Regions from separate parts of the Homo sapiens genome. Here region 1 is linked to region 2. Evidence: fine-mapped expression QTL. A gene starts in region 2. The other region holds a variant in brackets. All regions are shown on one strand. Distances are between the middles of the regions. Region 1 overlaps KLHL24 (kelch like family member 24). Region 2 holds the start of KLHL24 (kelch like family member 24).

Region 1 (2,908 bases), 33 kb before region 2:
TTAACTCTTCCCTCCATAGCTAATTAACTATTAAGTCCCACTGAGTCTTCTTCCACAGCATCTTTCACATATACCCCTTCCTTTACGTTTCCCGCTGCCATCACCCACTTGAGGGTCCACAACATTTCATTCCTCTCAAATAACCTCCTGGCCTCCACTCTTGTTCTCTCTAAACCACAGATTATTCTTCCTAAAATACTTTATCAGTTCCTCTTAATATTTCAACAATGAATGTCTAAGGGTCAAGGCCACATTTCATAACTTGTCCTTCAAATTTGTCCACAATTTATCTTTCTGTGCACCCCCAAATTTCCACAGTACTCAATGCCACTTCTATCATGCATTTCTCACATTATGTTAAAATAATCTGTTGGTGAGTTTGTGTCCCCAACACTATGCAGCTCAGACAGGTTAAGTAACTTACAAAAGTCCACACAGCTATATGGAGTATGGAACCTGTGGCACGATGTAGCAATTAAGGGCACAGGCTTTGATCACCAGCTCTGCCATCCAATGTAAGGGCAATTTATCTACCCTTTTGGAGACTCAAATTTATTTCCTCAATTTTATAATTTTTTTTTTGAGGCGGAGTTTCGCTCTTGTTGCCCAGGCTGGAGTGCAATGGCGTGATCTCAGCTCACTGCAATGTCTGCCTCCTGGCTTCAAGGGATTCTCCTGCCTCAGCCTCCTGAGTAGCTGGGATTACAGGTGCCCGCCACCATGCTTGGCTATATTTCCTCAATTTTAAAATGTAGACAATCATAGTATCTATCACATGGCATAATTTTGAGGATTAAACTTTAATACGTATTCCTACATGTGTAAATTAAAATATAATACATGCCATGAGCATCAAGACAAAAGGCCTCTAGATTAAGAAAAGTCTGAGCTTTTGCCTCTGCTTTATCATTTTTTGTGTAATCTTGGGAAGTGACTTGATCTCTTTGGGGTTATTTATAAGATGACCAAGTTATATTAAATATTCTCCATTATTCCATCATCCCTTCCTACTCTAAGATTTTTTTCCTTTTCTTTTTTTTGACAGAGTCTCACTCTGTCACCGGGCTGGAGTGCAGCAGGCAGCTCACTGCAGCCTCTGCCTCTCAGGCTCAAGTGATTCTCCTGCCTCAGCCTCCCAAGTAGCCGGGATTACAGGTGTCCGCC[A/G]CTATGCCCAGCTAATTTTTTGTATTTTTGTAGAGACAGGGTTTCACCATGTTGGCCAGGCTGGTCTTGAACTCCTGACCTTGTGATTTGCCTGCCTCGGCCTCCCAAAGTGCTGGGATTACAGGCGTGAGCCACCGCACCCGGTAATTTTTTATTTTTTCTTGAGGATTGCAGCCTAAGACACACTTCTAAGTTACACTGGGGAGTGCTCCCCTAAGATTCTATATTCTAAACCATCCCAGGTTTCCTTAAACAGAGTATTTATAAATTTAAGTATGTTTTATAAGCTTGAATTAAATCTATATTGTAATTTTAGCAAAATGACTTCCATGAATTGAGTACTTGCTGTGTAAGGTAGGAATGATTCCTTTTCTTTATTGATTTAGTGCTTCTAAGCTTTGGGTATCTTCAAGTCAAGTACACTATTTTGTCAAATAAATTTGAGTTTACCAATACATACATGGTTTTTGAGACATCAGTACTTTTCATTTGCCTTTGTATCAGCATCTCCTTCCAACCCCTGGATTATTTTAGCCCCTCTTTTCCAGTAATATTTTGTCCTTCTTGAGGCACAGCCTCAAACACTATATATAATATAGTAAGTACTAACAAACCAAATGGTTTTAGAAAAGATTCTATTAATATTTTATTTCCAGTAAATCTGTCTCAAGGTCCTCATTATTTCATTGGCCTTGTAGACAGCAGCAGCACACTAGATCCAGGTCGTTAGGAATTAACAGCTTTTAAACTGTGTTTTGAGCTGGGCATGGTGGCTCATGCCTGTAATCTCAGCACTTCGGGAGGCTGAAGCAAGAGGATGGCTTGAACCCAGGAGTTTGAAACCAGCCCAGGCAACAGGATAAAACATTATCTCCACAAAAAATACCAAAATTAGGTGTGATGGTGTGTGCCTGCAGTCTTAGCTACTAGGGAGGCTGAGGTAGAAGGATCACTTGAGCCCAGGATGTCCAGGCTGCAGTGAGCCATGACTGTGCTGCTGCACTACAGCCTCAGCAACACAGCAAGACCCTATCTCAAAAAATAAAAATATATAAACTGTTTTGAGAAGCTCTAGTATTCTACGCAGCAGTCCCCAACCTTTTTGGCACCAGGGAGCGGTTTAATGGAAGACAATTTTCCCACAGGTCTGGGTGGGGGGCTGGTGGGGGACTGGTCGGGGATGGGATGGTTTGGGGATGTAACTGTTCCACCTCAGATCATCAGGCATTAGATTCTCATAAGCAGCCACAACCTAGATATCCCTCATATGTGCTGTCCATGCTCCTATGAGAACCTAATGTGCGCTGATCTGACAGGAGGTGGAGTTGAGGCGGTAAAGCTCGCTCAGTGGCTGCTCACCTACTGCTGTGCAATTAGATTCCTAACAGAACGCTGACTGCAGTGGCAAAATCTTGGCTCACTGCAAACTCCGCCAGAAGCGATTCTTCTGCCTCAGCCTCCCGAGTAGCTGGGACTACCGGTGCGGACCACCATGCCCGGCTAATTTGTGTATTTTTAGTAGACAGGGTTTCACCATGTTGGCCAGGATGGTCTCGATCTCTTGACCTCGTGATCCACCTACCTTGGCCTCCCAAAGTGCTGGGATTACAGGTGTGAGCCACCACGACTGGCCTAGTATAGAAGTTTTAAGAAACCCCTGTGGGGAAAGAGAGGAAGGAGGACTAGTAAGAGGCTGACCAAGAAGGGTTCCTGGTCACCATTTCTGTTTCAGCTAGAGCTTTGT
Region 2 (2,908 bases):
TAATCATTAAAATCCACTAAAATCAATTGTGAACAGCCACTGCCTCAGGGGTGACCGTGGGGCCCCCTAAGATGTGGCACTGTGATCTATATTTAGCTATCTAAACACGTTTACAGAACTGGCAACAACGTGTTCGCAGGACTTCCTGCGAACCACCCGGCAGATAACGCGACACTAGTTAAAGGGTGTTAATTTTCCGGTCCTCGGAGGGCAGGCCACGGTAGCCGATCTCTGCGTGCCCAGAACTGCCTGCAGGATCAGGCAGCAGCAGCGGCGGCGGCGGCCACCGAGGCTACCAGCCGCCCGCAGCAGGGGCGGGAGCGCGCGCCTCCCGCACCCGCGCCACCCGGCTCCACTCGGGCCGCAGCTGCAAAAGCAGCGACAGCGCGCGCTCCCGCGCGTCCTCCAGATCACCTTCAAGGGGGCGGGAAGAATGGCCCAGGGCAGGCCCACCTAGTGACAATAAAAACTCGCCAATAAAAACTCGAACTCTCCCTCGGGTACCGCCCACAAGCTGCCGCAGGCGCCCAATCCCCGCCGCGTTAACAGTCTTCACCCGGGGTGTCCAGAACTTGAGGGCGGGTCCATTAGGAACTAAATTAAGAAACTGAGTCCTGGAGTGGTAAGAAGGTGGGGAGGTTAGGCGGGGACTGCGCCGGCGGAACGCCCGCTCCCCCGCCCGCCCCGGCTCCCCGGGGACGGCCGCAGCGGGCCGGGTGTCGCGATCGTGGTAAACAAAGGCTCGCAGGGGACGGGGGCGGGGGTAACGGTCAGGTGACAGTGCCGAGTGCATTTCGCAATCGCTTTAATGGGGCTTCACGGGCCCGCGGCCCTGGGGACCCCACCTTGACCCCGTCATTCCTCCCGGACAGAACCGACGGTCGTCCCACCAAACAAGAAGGCTGGATTTGAGGCGGTCGCACTCCCCCGGGCTTCCTGAAATAAAAAGCAGCGCCCCGTTCGCAGCCCATCGGCAACAAGCAGCACCCGTCTGCCCAGCCGCCTCCCCCGGCGGCGCCCGGCCCCGCGGCGACTAGCCTACCGCACCTGCGGCTACCCCCAGTCCCGGCAACCACCCCGCCCTAGCCAGGCCGCACCAGCCGCGCCGCGGTTCCGGGCCGTAGTGCCAGGAGGCGCGCGCGCCCTCCCTCAGGGCTGTAGCTACCAAGCGGGGGAGGAAGACCCCCCAGGTGAACCCTGGAGGCCCCTCGCCTCAGAAAGGGGCCCTGTAGCCCAGCTGCAGCCTCTCCGCAGACCGCCAGTCTGGCTCTGAGAGGCCGGCCGCCGCTGGCTGCCCTCCCGCAGACACCCCGGTGGTCAGGACCGCCGTCGCCCCTCCGCCCCCGAGGACTCAGACTCTGACCGGTTCCTCGCCTTTCGGCCGGTCCCGGAGCTGTCACCCCCGGTACCTCTCGGCGAACACTGGAAGCAGCCAGCAGTGGCTAACCCCGCGGTCCCTCAGCGGCGGGCGGCGCAGCGCACTCTCCAGCGCCGGCGTCTCCTCCAGCCACCAGTCTCTGCCGCAGCTCACAACAAAGGAAACATGTGACCGTCCGGGCCAAAACACTGAGCGTCAGCGAACCCTGGCCAATCCGGGTGGGCGTCCTCCGCCCCGGGGAACCCTGGGAGATGTAGTTCACGCTTCCCGGTGGCCTCCGGGGCCACCTGGGGCTCCCGCCGTGGGGTGGGTGTCGGGTGCCCAAGAGGACGAGACCCACCCAAAGGGCTGCTGACTCAAAAACACCTTGTTTTAAGCAGAGACAGTTAAAAAAATGCCTCTTGTGTAAGGAGCCGAGTGAGAAGCCAGAGTCGTTTCTTTCCTTCCCTCAAAGGCCCCTGCCACGTCCCAAGGAAAAAGCCCGCGATCAGCCCTTCGACTTTAAAGCTTGGGTCGAAGCTTAGAGAGCTTTTTATTTGACCCTTTGATAGACAATCGGAAATCAGGCCTGAGGGCCTGCAGGGTGGACGAGACTAAAACCCCAGTCCTTAGAAGGAGCAAGGAAAACCACCTCTTTTTTTTTGATAAAGCTGTTACTGTCCCTGGTATCAAATCCTAGGTTACCTTTTTATTTTAAACGCACATGCACGTCGACCAAAGCTGTCACAAATCCCTGTTTTCCAAGGTAGATGGAGTTCCTAAAGGACATTGTGTTGTCGTTTTGTGTCTGCAAGCTTTTTGTTTTGTTTCGTTTTGAGACAGAGTTTCGCTCTGCCACTCAGGGTGGAGTGCAGTGGCGCAATCTCGGCCCACTGCAACCTCTGCCTCCCGGGTTCAGGCGATTCTCCCGCCTTAGCCTCCCGAGTAGCTGAGACTACAGGTGCCCGCCACCACGCCCAGGTAATGTTTTGTATTTTTAGTAGAGGCTGTGTTAGCCAGGCTGGTCTCGAACTTCTGGCCTCAAGTGATCCGCCTGCCTTGGCCTCCCACAGTGCTAGGATTACAGGCATGAGCCACTGCGCCCCGCCTGCAGGTATTCTTTTAAAGGATGATTGCAACCATTTAACTAGTTTTTGGTTTCTGATACCAAATTTAAAAATCTCTATCTTCTACATGTCATGAATACCGTCATGCCTCTATTAAATTAGGCGTTGTGTTCTGATGACCAGAGGCGGAAATAATATGGAAGGCCTATATACAGGCCTTTTAAACATACTTTTTAGGCCTCTTTTCCATCTCTTATTCAATTATTTGAGCTATTTCTTCTGGTATTTATATATTTCCAAATAATGTATGACTATTTCCTATTAAGGAAGCTATCCTTCTCATAATCTGGTTAAATCATTAATGTTTACGCTAATGAGACCATGTATTTATTATTCATTGTTGAGACAAATCGTATACAATTTCCCATCTTGTATGGCTTTTGGTTTTCCTTGGAGTTTTAATAATTATCCTCTTTCTTTGCTT

The links. PIP is the estimated chance that this variant, and not a neighbour inherited with it, causes the effect.
Region 1: its variant is the best candidate, but not a certain one, in a credible set for the expression of KLHL24 in blood mononuclear cells (TOPMed, PIP 0.55).

What each region holds. Positions count from the first base shown.
Region 1 is chr3:183,667,027-183,669,934 of GRCh38, reverse strand. All of the region lies in intron 5 of KLHL24 (kelch like family member 24), which reads right to left. Among named protein-coding and RNA genes, the nearest start is that of YEATS2, 29 kb to the left of the region's middle. RefSeq lists an enhancer at 2,713-2,908. The variant A/G (reference allele first, on the strand shown) is at 1,165.
Region 2 is chr3:183,634,249-183,637,156 of GRCh38, reverse strand. KLHL24 (kelch like family member 24) reads right to left here and starts at 1,534. Exons shown (of 8, transcript NM_017644.3): 1 at 1,364-1,534. It overlaps LOC107986162 (a long non-coding RNA gene), which reads left to right and starts at 548. Exons shown (of 2, transcript XR_001741042.2): 1 at 548-622; 2 at 873-2,908. RefSeq lists silencers at 129-458, 509-828, 1,019-1,088, 1,099-1,208 and an enhancer at 1,629-1,688.